2 linked regions of the Homo sapiens genome follow. The protein of the gene in region 2 purifies or fractionates together with the protein of the main gene of each other region. This does not show direct contact. Each region holds a gene or a part of one and is shown on either strand. Other genes may lie near its edges.

Evidence for each region.
Region 1: the proteins of LRRC42 (region 2) and PLXDC2 purify together in Homo sapiens (affinity purification with mass spectrometry; 3 studies listed by BioGRID and IntAct, with this or other methods). This does not show direct contact.

What each region holds. Positions count from the first base shown.
Region 1 is NC_000010.11:20,210,789-20,219,477, forward strand, and holds part of PLXDC2 (plexin domain-containing protein 2 isoform 1 precursor), read left to right. Parts: intron 1-880; coding exon 881-941; intron 942-6,637; coding exon 6,638-6,788; intron 6,789-8,275; coding exon 8,276-8,314; intron 8,315-8,689. UniProt on the Homo sapiens protein: May play a role in tumor angiogenesis.
Region 2 is NC_000001.11:53,956,350-53,963,389, reverse strand, and holds part of LRRC42 (leucine-rich repeat-containing protein 42), read right to left. Parts: intron 5,242-7,040; coding exon 5,110-5,241; intron 3,035-5,109; coding exon 2,916-3,034; intron 1,357-2,915; coding exon 1,268-1,356; intron 1,095-1,267; coding exon 981-1,094; intron 1-980.

The sequences.
Region 1 (8,689 bases), on a different chromosome or scaffold from region 2:
TTGCACAGATGATACTTAATTTCCCCAATAACAATGTGCAATAATACACAACAAGTACTGCTAATCAAGGAAGCTCACCCAAGCTTGGTCTCCAGGGTTTTTATTAAGGGTTCATTCATCAGGATAGAATGCCCTTGTGACTAATCTTATCTTCCAGTCGTCAGCTCTCCCCAGGGTCAAACTGTTACAGCATGGCCCAGGGTCCCAAGTAAATGAAGTCACATATTCACAATAAATCAAATTGTCAGCATAAACTATCTGCATGGCTCAAGACCCGAGGTAGACACTCTTAATAGGCAGGATAGTCCAGGAGTTTAGAGGTTACTTCTCAAGAGCAAGTCAAGGGCCAGTCTTTTTTTTGGAACATGCAGGGTCTGAAAACCCCACAACTGCCAAGTTAACATTTTACTGCACAAAAGGGAAAGAGTTTGTGTGATGGTGGGTCTTGAATGAATGAGTAAAATGAATGAATGAATGAACCTGAAATCATGAAATACAATATTTGCAAAAAAAGTGTGTATTTATTTGTTTTAATGATGAGAAAAAAAATACAAGGTAAAAGAAAATCCACTTCATAGAAGAGCGATTGGTCTTATCTTTGTGCAGGGATCTAGGTATTCCGTACAGTGCAGTTTGCTTTAACAGTGATTTGGTTGCCATGTGCGATCCTAACAGTGACATCCTAAGGAATGAGTGATTATTTAGCAACCCTCTAAATATTTCCCTGCTTCTCCAGTTGCGAGTTCTATAGAAGAGTTAATGTTATGCTAAACTGAAAATGTGAGAATGAACTACCTACTAATCTTTTACTTTTAATTTCTGTCCACCACCCTGCACCCTATCCTTCCTTTTCTGAACTGCATTGTGGTCTTCTTTGAAGATGTTCCAGTGGATTTGATCGTCATCGGCAGGACTGGGTGGACAGTGGATGCCCTGAAGAGGTACACATGCTTTATTGTGACAGAATCCTGGGACCAAGCTGTCATATACATGTGTTTTAACTGTTAATAATTTTTATTCAAAATTTATGCCCTAAAACTTAATGAAAGGAGAAGAATCCTTCTATAAGCCCAATGTCTGCAAATATTAGGGGTTCGATAACAGCTGGCTATTTTTGTTAAATTAGATAACATTTTCATTACATTGTAGCAACTTGCTACAACCCCTAATAGATGCAGACATGGGGCTTAACTATTTATATGTATTATCTCATTTCATTGTCATATTCATTCTATGAAGAACAGTGCCTGCACTGTCACTACCCCCATATTACCAAGGAGAGAAAGGGGAGGAGTGAGGGGAGCTTGTGGGGAGGGGTGAAGTGTGGGTTCTTGGAGAGTCAGGTAAATGGCTAGGGAATAGTAGGGCCAGGATTGGAATCTGTAGAGGAGTTCTCTTAAATGCTTGCTATTTTTCTAGGATGTACGAAACCATTGTTCCTCTTTGTAATTCAAACAGCAAGACCAGTGGTATTGTGGAGGGTGGAAGACTGCAGCAAATTGATGTGCTGTAATAAATGAGAAATTGTATAACATTAGTTGGCATAGAGAGATGGTATAATGTTAACTCTGAGGGAAACATGATAGAGACAAGGATGCAGTGAAGTCGTGTAAGCAATTGGATACCAGAAACAATTTTAACCCGTTTAAAAGCTTTGCAGTGACTCGCATTTATACTATCATTTCAAGATCATATAAAGATATCCTATAAAGTTTATGAAGAAAAGCATTTACTTCTTCTCCCTTCATTAAGTTTTGGGGTATCAATTTTGAATTAAAACTGCTAACAATTACAAAAGTTTAGCAAAGCAAGCCATGCCAAAATGCTGTTTTAAAAACTATTTGTTCAATGGTTACTTAGAGACTTTTTAAAAATTCATTTTTGGGGGGCATGTTTCATAAAGATCTTGAGCAATACATTTTTAAAAACATTCTTGAACTTTAAATGCAGTATTGCCAGTGTAGCTATAACCAACCTTTTGGCATTTCATTTAGGGAATGACAGCAGTGTGTGCTCATCCGTCTCACCTCACTTATCTAATAACGTAGTTCCAAAGAGTATCTATTGACAAAGCCATAGTTGTGTTTTGAGACAATCATTTCTTTCATATAATCAGTTACCTCAATATAAAATGTTGAAAATGAATATCTCCATATATGTAAAGATTGAGAATGTAATTCAGATGTATATTTTTTCTCCCAAATTTGGTTTATCTTTTCATTTTCTCTATGATTTTATTTCACTAACATTAATTATCAATTTAATCTGTCAAATGTATGAATCTTTTATTTTTATGATGAGTTTTATATGCCTGTGCATCTTCTTTTAGAAGAATTTTCCTACCAAATTCCATCTAGGTGTTATTTTTGTGTATTTTTTTCTGAATATTTTAAAGCTTTGTCTTACACGTCAAAATCTATTCCATTTGGAATTGGTTTTTATGTATTATATAAGGTAGAGATTCAGTTTCGTGGGGTTTTTTTTCTTGATGGATAGCCAAATTTCAAGCACCATTTGTTAACTAATCCTTTCTTTTGGCAATATCTTGCAAAGTCACCTGTTTTATGTATATTTTCTGGGCTCTCCTCTTCTAAAGCTCTGTCAGTACTTAGATCAGTGTCCCACTGTATTAATTTCTATTGTTTTATAAGAAATCTTACTATATACAGGACAAATCTCCTTACTTTTTCTTCTTCACAAGTGTTTGGGTATTTTAGGGCTTTTGTCCTTCATATAAATATTAAACTCACCTTGTCGAGATCTGTAATCCATCTATCAATACATCTTACTAACATTTTATTGGAAATACATTAAATTATGAATTAGATCACATTTCCTAATTACAGAGGCTTTTAAAATTTACCTTTTTTACTATTGACTTCTAGACTAATTGAGTCATCATCAGAGAACATGTTATGATCTTTAAAGTTGATTGGAAATTTTTCATGAACAAGTACATGGGCATTTTGTACAAAGGGTCTATGTGTGTTCAAGAAAAATGTGTGTTTTCCTGTTGGTTGGGTGTCAAGCTTGATAAATGTACTCTTCAGCTATACTTCTCCACTCTCTTTATTTTCACCTTCTGACTTCTTTGAAAGCTTGCCATTTTCATCTTTTCCTCATATTTTTAAACCTCTATTATATGTAATCTCTTTCCTTATTACTCTGTGCTGTATTTGGAGCAATTTCTTCAGATGTATTTACCGGTTTATTAACTCTCCCTTCATCTTGTTTAATATTCTATGTAATCTACTCACTGAAGTAGAAATTCCAACAAACATTTTTCATATCTAAAATTAAATTTGACACTTATTACATCTGCCAAGTATTTTATAGTTTCATGTGAACCGTTCATTTCTCAATTTTATCTTTTATGATTTTAAATATTCCGTGTATGATTTTTGTATATTCCATATTGGATGATCCCATTATCTAAAATTTTGGTGATCTAAATAGTGTGGTCATTGTTTTTGCTGATTCTTTCTCAGACAGCTATTTTTTTTTCTTTTTTAGTGTATATTTGTCTGATCCTATTCTAAGACCTAAATAGGTGATGTTTTCCCCCAAAGAAGATTTGATGATGGGATCCTCAGGATTTTCAGGCTACCATAAGTCTCTGCCCTAATGTGAGGAGGAGAAGTTCAGATTTTTCTCCCCTGTCTACTACTGCTGCAAGGCTTGTTCTCTTTAGAGCGATATTGATTTTGGATTTTTTTCCTCAGGGCAAATTCTGCTTTTTTAACTTCCCTTAATGTATACAGCTCCTACTGTCTTTATAGCACATAGCTTTTGCTTTGTTTTATTTTTTGAGTGGGGAGGGGAATAAACAATGGAAAGGCACCATTGGGATATTCTTTACCTCCTGCAAATCCTAAGGCTTTAAAATTCAAGTTTTATTCAGAATCTACTTGTTTTGTTATAGGAGGGCTATTTAGTTCCTTAGTCTGCCGTTACTGCCAAAAGCAATCTGAGCCTAGGATTTTACCTTAAACGTAGGGTGTTTACTGAACATTATTAGATCCTGTTTACGGAATACTAGGTCCTGTTCATTGACAGTAGAAACACAAAGAGAGAATAATATATGGCAAGTTCCATTCTATACTCCTTGAGTTTGAGATGTGTGTGACATTCACATGCAGACACCTGGTCAATAGATGACTTTTTGGGCCTGAAATCCAAAAGAGGAATGTGGACTGGAAATATAGATTTATGAATAATCAACATAAAGATGTTCATTGCAGTCATGGGTGTAGAAGAGATTGCAAAAGATAATGCATAGAATGAAGTGACAGAGCAAGAATGATCCATAAGAACCACCCCAACACTTAAGGAATTGACATAAATAAAAGGAAATTGAGATGGAGTTGTGAGGGAGGTGTCAGAACATTGAGGAGAGGGTGTGTCACAGAAACCAAGACAGGGGAGTGGACATCTGCACCATAGGCTGATGAGGTGTCAGTAGGACACCATGGAAGATGTTGGATATTTAGCTAAGGAGATATTTAGAAACATTGGTACGAGAAATTTCAACTCAGTTGGATTAGGTAAGAGCAAGATTGTCATAAAAGGGAAAGCTGGGAGTCTGAGAAGACCAAGGCAGACTGATCTCTCTGGAAATATGACTGCGTATGAATGGAGGGAAAGCAGTATAATGTCAGGATGCATTGGGGAGAAGAGGGAGGCAGTCCCTCTTCTGGGACTGCCTCCCTTTGCAAACTGGAATTTGGGTTTGCAAAATAAGATTAGGCATGCTTGTGTACCTTTAAGTGTTGTTGATAAGAAGCCAGCAGAGAATTAGGGGTGGCAAATATTGTAGAGAAAGGACTATGATCACCTAAGCAAATTCACAATACCTGTGAAGGTGGGCTGAGTTGAGCTAGGACATAGGTAGAAATAGGTTGAAAGGATGGCTATAAGGAAAGGTCCCCATCCATTATCACAGAAGGAAAGAATAGGTCAGCCCAGAGTCAAGTAAGTATGCTGATTCACTAAGAAATTTAAAGAAATCTTGCTGATCATGCCTATTTATCAAGGAAATGGAAGGTGAACCCAAGGAGTAAAACCGGGAGAATCATGATGGGATTGCAGTTTTAGGTAAAGTGGAGAGAGCTTGAAATTCATACTGAGCATAATGGGAGAGGTGATTAGCAAGACACAGCAATGCTGCCAAGTGGTATGCACGGCCCTGCTAAGGATGCAGGAGATGTTTGTGGAGCCCCCATGGCGGGTCTGTGTGATTATTCTCCAGCTGTGCCTGGCTTTGGAGCAGGCAGGGAAAAGGCAGATCTTTTCTTTAAAGGTGTTGTAGAAAAAAAAACTAAAAAAAAAAAAAAATAAAAAAATAGAGCAAGATGCTTGAAGCTACTGAAATGAGTGGTTGAAGTAATGGGGGAAAAAGAAACTTAAAAACAAAATCATTTTCTTAGGCTTTCTAAGTAGTCAAAGAATAAGAAGAATTGGAGTTCGCAGGTACAGGGATAGATGGAAAAAGGATAACTGAGCTTATGATTTCAGATCTAAAACATTTTCCACTACAGATATAGTCCAGGGTGTGGGGATGACAACTAAAGTGGTATCTGAAAGGAAATAATTAGATTAATGGGGCTCAGAGGTGCAGGAACTGGAATTTGGGGAATTAAATGAGACCCTAGTATGTTTAGACTTGAAGTGGAGAATAAACCTGTTTCATATCCTATTAATGAAAAGGAGGCTGTCTCAGGAAGTCTGCATTAACAAGGGGAAAGGCACCTAGCGCTCCACTAATGATGAGAGAAGTTTAAGAATGATATTTATTTAACAATAATTTTAAAATGTGGGATGAGAACCACTCATGTCCAGAATAGTTATTTTCTACTCAAGGCCCACCTGAGAGAGGGAGTCCACTGCGGCACAAAAGGTGGATAGAAACACCAACTTCTAAGCTATAAAAGTTTGGATGTTGGAGGTTGTTACCAGTGAAGGTTGTAGGATTTGTTTTCACAAATTAAAAATAAAAAATTCACTATGTCTCATTTCCTGATGTTTTCAATATAGCTCTGCTAAGGAGGAAAATAGGCTGAGTGATTACAAGAGTTCTGTTCAATCCTTTGCTTATGTGGTTTTGAATATTTCATAAAGGAAAACAAAATTTTAGACATTCATTCAACTTGTGACAGATGATTTTTGAAACAATGAAGTAGTATGGGGAAGTTAGCAAATATTTCGGATTTAGCATTGTCAGTTTGATACGAAAGGAATGCACTTTTTCTCCACAAACCTGAGTATGTTTTAAACCTTATCTTTATGCACCTGTTTTTCTTCTAGTATAAATTTTCCCTTTTGACAGTGTGTCTTTTATAAATATACCAATGTAAAATTTAGGGCAAGGTAAACAGTAATATGAAAGCTTAACAGCAGTAAATGATGAAACCTAAATATCTAAAAAGGGAAATGCCTTGTTCCATCCATCTTTTTCTCTTTCCTATTTTATAAACTTCATAAATTAGCAAAATCATTAATATAGTCTTGTACAAAAGTAATTTATTCCTTGTCTTGATATGAGAGGCTTTTGTGCTTTACAGCCCAGCTTCTTTGATGTAAGTTCTAAAAATAGATTTGTGATCACTCCATTTGTTTTCCTTTTCTTTTCTCTTACTAGTCAAAAGAGAAGATGTGTGAGAATACAGAACCAGTGGAAACTTCTTCTCGAACCACCACAACCGTAGGAGCGACAACCACCCAGTTCAGGGTCCTAACTACCACCAGAAGAGCAGTGACTTCTCAGTTTCCCACCAGCCTCCCTACAGAAGGTACCCAAGAGATAGTTTGCTTTTTTTTTTTTTTTTTTTTTTTTTTTTCCCTGAAGGAAGGAAAAATCACTGTGTTGACATGTACTGGAATAGCTCCTACTCTCTAGGTCTCTCTAAAGTTATTCTTTGGCAAACTGGATTTCTAAGGGATTTCCAAAGGGGAAAAAGACAAAATTATTATGAACTAAAAGTAAATGCTGGGATTCTTTTAATGCACTGTGCCTTTTTTTAAGACATAGCTTTTACCATTGATTCTGGCTTCTTGTCCTCTCCTTCCTAGAAAAGAAATACAGATTTCTTCCTGTGTGGCTAAATTTTGTACTAAGCAAATCCAACTTCACAATCACAGGTTAGAAAGGCAAAATGCATATAAAATGTCCGTTGATTCTGGATTCTGAACAATAAATAATTCTATTAATATATAATTCTAATGTTTTCCAGAATGCAGTCAATAAAATATATTGGTCTATAACCTATACAGAAACACTGTATGTGTCATAGAAATTGTCCTTGAAAACAACTATTTCCTCTTCTAAGGTAGGCAGAAATACTAGAGAGTGTTAATGCTTGGGCACAGCTCAGGAGGAAGAAAGTGTATTACCCAACATACGATAATTTTCTATTCTGAATGATACCACCAGGAGGGAGAGGGCAGAAACATAAGACTGGCCACGAATCAGGTTTGAGGGGGATAAATGGGTCTTACTTGTTTATTGTTATAAGCCTCACTTTCTTTGGCTTGAATAAAAAATTAAATATGGAACTTTTAATTGGAATTTAATTTGATATTATAAGGTGAACTGGAATAAAGTGGGGTGGAAAGCAGCTGCTAAGTGCATTTTACTGCTTTTAAAAGCAACATTATCTTTTAATCCATATTATTTTGGATTATTATATTAAAGTCCACGAAAATATTCCTATAATTTAAACCCTACCCTTTAGAGTGAAACATAACCAGTAAAATAAAAAAGCATATCCTACATTTTGTTCAGTCAGGATAAGATCTCTTTATATAGAATTTTGGTCATCTTTTCTAGCAATGGGTAAACATTTAACTTTTGGAGTTAAATTTGTAAATATTGACAAATCTTAACTGTCACAATGAATTTGGATTTTCCTTGATCTTGATTTTTTAAAATGAATAAATAAGGTCATAACTATAGGTTCTAATTACAATAAGTGATTTTAGAGAATTAAAAATAGCTGTATTTTAACTTTTAATTATTACTGCTTACTTTTCTTGTAGAACTTAAGGATCATTCAAGATGTTACCAAAATCTTGACATTACAATCTCTGTAGGAAATTTTAGAACTACATCATGTAAAGCAAGGACTTGCTCTCATTGCACTAGAAATTACCACAATAAATTATCAAAATCTAGTCATGTTCCGACCAAGGCAGTTAGTAGACAATTACTAGTCATAAGATTTATGCTCCTTTGAAATCAATCCTTTTCTGTTATAGTAACTTTGAATTTCTCTTCCAGATGATACCAAGATAGCACTACATCTAAAAGATAATGGAGGTAGGAATTGATACTTTTCTTTCATAAACATCTTTTAAATATGAATTCATTTCATTTATTTTACTATGAGAAAGGCAATACGGGCTTCTAGATAAAAGGTGAGGTTGTGTTTTATTCTCCGTTGGGATTTAACATGGGAAGGAGTCAGTGGGTTGGCTTGAAAGTGAAATGAAATCCTCACCCTTGTGTTTGTGTATAAAACTGTGACACCAATTCCCAATGATAAAGTGGAAAATTCAACCACACATCTTGCTATTCTTTGTTGGTCTAGTCTTTGTTGTATTATAGTGGTGTGTAGTTATCTACACAGCTACAGGTATTGGGTTCAATTGTGTTTCACTAAATTGTCTCCTTGGTCAGCACCTTCTATGCATA
Region 2 (7,040 bases):
ACTGCAGCAAGCCTTTGTAAGACCATCCCACACCTGTCCCACATCCACTGGATGCATCTAGGTCTCATACAGCACTAGAAACTTTGTCTGGCAATGCACCATGATAATTATTTCATCATGCATGTTCTGGACCAAGCTCAGTGTGCTTCTGAAACACGACTCAGCAGTCTCCCTGCTTACCTGTGGAGAGGTGACGCTACAATCCAGCAGGTGGATAGTTCTACCATCCTGCATTATGGCTTGGAGCTAAGAGGGGATCCAGGACAGTTTGGTGGGTCCTCTAGGCCTCCACCAAGAAACATTGGTTAAAAGCATCTAAGGGAGAAAGGCCCCAGCCACAGGGAAGGTGGCATCTACTTGTGCTGTCCTACTTGGTTACTTTCACACTTCCAACTTACATAGAAGACTCTGAATCTCACTTAAGTCTGTACTCTACCAAGTGAAGAAAGACCATCAAGACAAAAGGAAGTCAAAGTAAAGTTCTCTCACTGTTAAGACTCAGTGAGAGAAGGACAAGAAAGACACCTCCTCACTAAGGCTGTGGGAGGTAAGAAACTTTCCCAAAACAAAGAGAAGAATCATATTTGAATCTTTATTTGCATGACACCGGAGTTTATTCTCTCTCCTGTATATACACACTACTAAGAGAATCTGTCCTTCTGAAGTTGGGTCAGACTGCTTTTTTGTGTAGCAAGCCAGAATTCACTTATTTTCTGAGTCATCTGTAAGATGACATTTTCTCCTAGGTCCAGTAAAGATAAGGCACAACCTAGTGACCAGAGCATGAGATATAAGGTCTGGCGCCAATTCTTTAAGCACGTGGGCCAGTTATAGCCCATCAGTGTCTCCAATTTGACATGAAGATGACAATTTAACCAAGGACTACCAAGTGGATTACTGTTTATTCAATGTGTTGGATAAGACACTTGGAATTAAGATGAAAAGCTGCATCAACCGCAAGGAAGAAAAATCTGGAGTACCTGGTCAGCCCAGCCCTCTGTCTTGCAGTTACTATGATCAAATTCCTTCAAAGGCACTTTGGAGTGAACAAGGCCTATGTGGGTCTGGAGCTTGTGCTTGACGGTTTTGATGTCCTAGTGAGGCAGAGACAGATCAGAAATGCAAATACATTTGGTTAATTCTTACTTGTTTTCAGTAGTAAATAAAGACCATCATAAATACCAGCCCTTTCTAAATACCAATTAGCACAGGCAAAATATCAAATTGTTGAGTCTAGAAAAATGAGAGAAGGAACCAAAAGTCTTACCTTGAGCCCTGTCCCAGAGATATCTAAGCAGTTTAGTTTCCTAAAAGAAAAGAGGTATCCAATGCCTGCATCTGTGATCTCAGGGTTACCTAGATGTCAAAAACAACGTAGCATTCTGTCACAATATAAATGCTGTTAAAATGACAACCAAAAATAAGCTCAGAAAAACGTCCGGGCAATGATAAACTATAAAACATTTGAGTTGGCAAACTTTTCAAAGTAAATTAAATACAGAGGTCTGATCTTTACTATTTGTAATATAAAAGAGCCACACTCAATGATCCCTAAAGATCCTTTACAGCTCTTACTTTCTAGGAGTTGGGGGTGAGCAGAAAAATAAATGAACCAGGTAGTTATCCCAAAGGGTTTAATTTGGAACCATATGAAAACATACATAAACATGTATTACAATGGTTTATCATACTTTATTCATGGCCATTTCACCTCCAAAGTAAAAGCATTTATTTATTTTAAAAAGATATTCAAGGGAACTTAGACACAGATACTATCACCACTCTTACCAACTTGCATTATTTTCAGAATCCTTTCTTATATATTACTTTCTCACGTCAGAGAGTACTACACTTAGCATTGAGTCCTCAAGGCCATAAGCGTAGTGCCTGGCACATTGTAGATGCTCAAAAAATATTTGTTGAATGAATACACTTCCCTGGGAGGTAGGGAGGACATTCATTATTTCTTTTTTTTTTTTGAGACAGAGTCTTGCTCTGTCACCCAGGCTGGAGTGAGTGACGCAATCTTGGCTCACTTGCAAGCTCCGCCTCCCGGATTCACGCCATTCTCCTGCCTCAGCCTCCCGAGTAGCTGGGACTACAGGTGCCGGCCACCACGCCCAGCTGATTTTTTGTATCTTTTTAGTAGAGACGGGGTTTCACTGTGTTAGCCAGGATGGTCTTGATCTCCTGACCTCGTGATCTGCCCGCCTCGGCCTCCCAAAGTGCTGGGATTACAGGCGTGAGCCACCGCGCCCAGCCAGGACATTCATTATTATCCTCATTTTACAAAGGCCAAAACCAATGCTCAAAGTGGTTAAATAACTGGTCTGAAGGTATATAACTGGTAGTAAAAGTGGTAGACCAAGAAGGGTCCTCAGACCTCAAACCACTGCTCTTTCTATTCTTTTGGCATCATACTGTCCTGCCATAGAGTCAATGGATGCTCGGTTAAATTGTAAATGATCTCTGTCAACCTCTTACCATTGGAGTCAATATCTGGTTAATCTGAGTAAATTATCCGTTCATCCAGCTTTTCATCAGGCAAACACTGATAAAAAAGGACCTAGCTGACAGACACCAAGGATCAGAGACTCAAGGAAAATAAAGATGAGTCAAATGTCCTTTAAGTATGCAATGAATATGATGAAAGGTGTCTCTGTTTGCACACAGCGAGTGGCATGGATGAATGTGTAAGGGTTTTTCCTACCCTAAAGAGGTGGTATGTGCTAGAAAAATCAGTTGGCCAGGAGTCAAGAGTCTTTGGCCTCAATCCTGTTCTGCCACCAAGTTTCTATGGCACCGAGGAAAGTCACCTTTCCTTTCTCACCTCTAAAATGAAGAGGAAGAACTACATGATCTCTAAGGCCATTCTTCCAACATTAAAATAATCTATAATTTCGAAGAAAACTTACATGATAAGTCTAATAATGTTAGATTCTCAAGGCCTCTTTTCATCACTCGAACTGGTGCTGTCATCTTCCGCACCCCAGCATCAGATAAACAATTATCCTTCAGGTGGAGCTGAGTTACACTAGGGAAACAAAGTACATACATAAATTACTCAAAGAGAGTTTGAGACAATCTAGGTATAAAAACATGCTTTCAACATTTTCATTTAAAAATATAACATATCCTCTACCTCTTGCTATTTCATACCCAATGCATTTAACAAAGTTAAGCTCTTTTGGGCTGGGCATGGTGGCTCATGCTTGTAATGTCAGCACTTTGGAAGACTGAGGCTGGAGGATCACTTGGGCCCAGGAGTTAGAGACCCCATCCCTGCAAGAAATTTTAAAAAATTAGCTAGCCAAGGTGCTGTGTGCCTGTGGTCCCAGCTACTTGGGAGGCTGAGGCAGGAAGATGGCTTCAACCAAGGATTTCAAAGCTGCAGTGAGCTATGATTGCACCACTGCACTCCAGCCTAGGTGACAGAACATGACCCTGCCTAACAAAAAAAAAAAAAAAAAGATTTTTTGGTGCCATTTCAGTTACCAAGTGAGAGTTAATTTAGTGTCATGCAGTACTAATTTCAGAGGGCAGAGGGCACTAAAGGTATATTGTTGAATGAGGTAAATGGACTTCCACTAGGGGATAAATATACTTTAAAACAAAAGCTGCTTTTCTGACAAATGGTGTGAAAATCAAAAACATTCTAACTATGTCAGGAAAGTCTGCTAAAGAACTCCTATGAGAATTATTTTTGCAAAGCAAACAATCCTCTAAATTTAACCAGCTTTATCAATCTAGATTTTCAGTTTGGGTTAATAAGGTATACCCATAATCCAATCCATCTGATGCTAAGCTGGAATTGGTATATTAATATGCTCCGTTTTCACATAAGAAATCTGAGCCTTGATGCTGGCTAGCCTCACACAACAGCATCTTTTTATGGGGCAGTAGGTAGGTGTCACTGTCAGAAGCAGGCCTCAGGTAGTAGGTTAGACCTAGGTTTGTAATGCTGTTGTTCTTCTGGGTGTTTATAAAACCACAGAGGGATCCATCTGTCCTCCTCTTTGCTGGCCAGAATAACCTGAGATCAGTCAGACTATTTGTGAATGGTATGAACTGGGCCATTTCTTTAAATCATGACTCCTGAAAAGAATTTCTTTGGCTGTCTTTAATAGTTCATTTTCTTTATAATTGTAGCTCATTGATAGTTAAAGTAGCAAACGATAATGATTGTTGACTATGGTATAATGTCTCATCCCTTGCTAGAATAAACTAGGACTGGATAAATAAAGGGCAAAACCCAAGGTGGGTGGATCACCTGAGGTCAGAAGTTCGAGACCAACCTGGCCAACATGGCAAAACCCCCGTCTCTACTAAAAGTACAAAAATTAGCCGGCGTGGTGGGGGGCGCCTATAATCCCAGCTATCAGGAGGCTGAGGCATGAGAATAGCTTGAACCTGGAGGTGGAGGTTGCAGTGGGCCAAGATCACGCCACTGCACTCCAGCCTGGACAACAAGAGCAAGACTCCGTCTAAAGAAATAAATAAATAGGGCCAGGCGCAGTGGCTGACGCCTGTAATCCCAGCACTTTGGGAGGCTGAGGCGGGAGGATCACCTGAGGTCAGGACCTCGAGACCAGCCTGACCAACACGGAGAAACCCCGTCTCTACTAAAAATACAAAATTAGCTGGGCGTGGTGGTGCATGCCTGTAATCCCAGCTACTTGGGAGGCTGACGCAGGAGAATTGCTTGAACCTGGGAGGTGGAGGTTGCGGTGAGCTGAGATCGTGCCATTGCACTCCAGCCTGGGTGGCAAAAACGAAACTTTTGTCTCCAAAAAAAATAAAAATAAAAATAAATAAATAAGGGGCAAAACCACTTTTTAACCTACGTAGCTTCAAGTATTACATATTAAAATAAAAGTTACTTAGAAAAAAAGAGTCAACTAACTGACTTGAGTCAACTGACTGACTTTCTAAGGGTTGTCTAATCTATATTGCTTATACCAAGTAAATGGAGATTGAAAATGTTTTAGGAAAAAAAAGCAAATCAACATAAGAATGGGAAGTAATCAGCATTCCTGAAGATAATCCTGTTGGATCAGCCTTTAAAACAATACTGAAACAATTCATCTGCAAGTGGTGACAGGTCAGTACCTAGACAGGGCTTCATTGGTGAGATGTTCTAGAAGTTCATGCTCATCTCCAAGCTTGCAACAGGAAAGATCCAGGCAGGTCAGCTCCCGGAAAGACTTAATCTCCTCAAGCTTTTCTGAAATCACGAGATACCTACGGAGCGTGGAGAGCAATCAATAGCTTCCCCTCACTACTCTTAAAGCATTACCATTTGTGGATTTGTATCATAGTCAATATCCTACCATCCCATCAGGACACAGTACTATGGAATAAGCAGACTTCACTAATTACTATCAGGGCAAAGGCTGAATTTTTTAATTAGTAAATGCCTTGAACATCTTTTTATGTGATGGTAGAATAAAAATTTTGAATAAATAAATAAATAAATAAATAAATGTATATTAGCAAAGGAAAGTCACAAGTGAAACACCTGCTTTGTTATCAGGCAGACCTTGGCATTGGTGTTGGGACCTTACCTGAGAATTTCCAAACTTTAGGATACTCGAATTTTTAATTACTAATTCTTTTAAAGTTGCTTTTAATCTAATGCTCAACATCCAGTGATTTGAAAACTGGAGCAAGGTCAAGAACTCTCGTTTCCAATCTGCATGTCCCCAAGAACATACCAAGAGATATTTGGCACATCACATTTTATCTTTCCTGAACACTCCCCTGTGCCTGTTATCCTAACTTTACTCCAAAAGTATGTACAGCAAGACTGCTACAAGGACTCACTCCAGTCTAGATGGATATTAAGACAAACCCTGAGCACGAGCAACTTAATTACATTGCAGCACCTTGCCAAGTTGTTATCAGGAAGCATCAGGGAAGCCTCTGGAGAGGGAAAGGAGATCAAAACAGCATTCCACAGCCCAGGCTGGGGCCTCCACCCTGCTTTCTAGTGGTTCATCTATCTCAGATGAGGTCAGTGAGAAAAAATGAAAGGGATTAGGTGTGACAGGAAATGGAGAGGAGAGGAACCTAAGAGGACAGGGAAACTGACTTGTGGCAAGAGCAGGCCTCTCTCATCCACCTTCCTCTTGAATGTCTGGAAGTTTCCACAGCAAGATGGTGTGTTAGGATCAGTGGGGTTACACCTAAAAGAGTACATACCTCTCTTCCATCAGCAGGATCACAACTGCCAAAAACAGGATGGAATAATCAGAGGGCAAGAGAGGAGTTAATCTCTTTTCTTCCTACTTCCAACCAAAAAAAGATGTACTCAAACTAATCACCAGCCTGACAGCTAGGTACAGATGGTCTGAGGCACTGATACCCCCTTAAAGGGTGGAACCTAAGGTGCCTGGAGACCGAGCTCAGCTGGGTACACAAAAGAGCCTTATTTACTCAGATGTATTTTAATTGCATTGTAAATAAAGCTGCTGTTTTCCACCTTCCAATCACAGAGTTGAAGTGTGTTAATGGGGATTTAGAGGATTACTGGCAATCAGAGAAAGGAAAACACATATACTTTGATCAATTAACCAAAAGATTTTTAGTAATTCTGAAACAAGGGTTCTCTGCAAAGGACATAACACTGTGTAATGTGATTAAGAAACATTACGAAACTCAAGGTTGAGGAACAAACATGTTAGGCCACAGACATTACTAGGTGCTAATCTAGGACATAATCAAAGCTCTAGGTTCTTGCTTGCAACCAGTCTTCCAAATTTTCCCTTAAAGGGTTCGGAACAGTACAGTGGAAAAGCAATAGAAAGAGCACAGACCAGACCTGAGTTTGGATTCTAACAGCCCAATTACTTGTGTGATTGTGAGACAGTTACTTAACCTTTCTGAGCCTCAATTTCTCCAGCTACAAAATGGGGCTACAAAATTCTTTTCAGGATGATTAAGAAAAAGAGAAACAATATTTTAAAATTCCATGGCATCTTGCAAGACCTCATGAAATAGTAGCTATTACTATTATGTCAACAACAAAAAGTGATATTTTA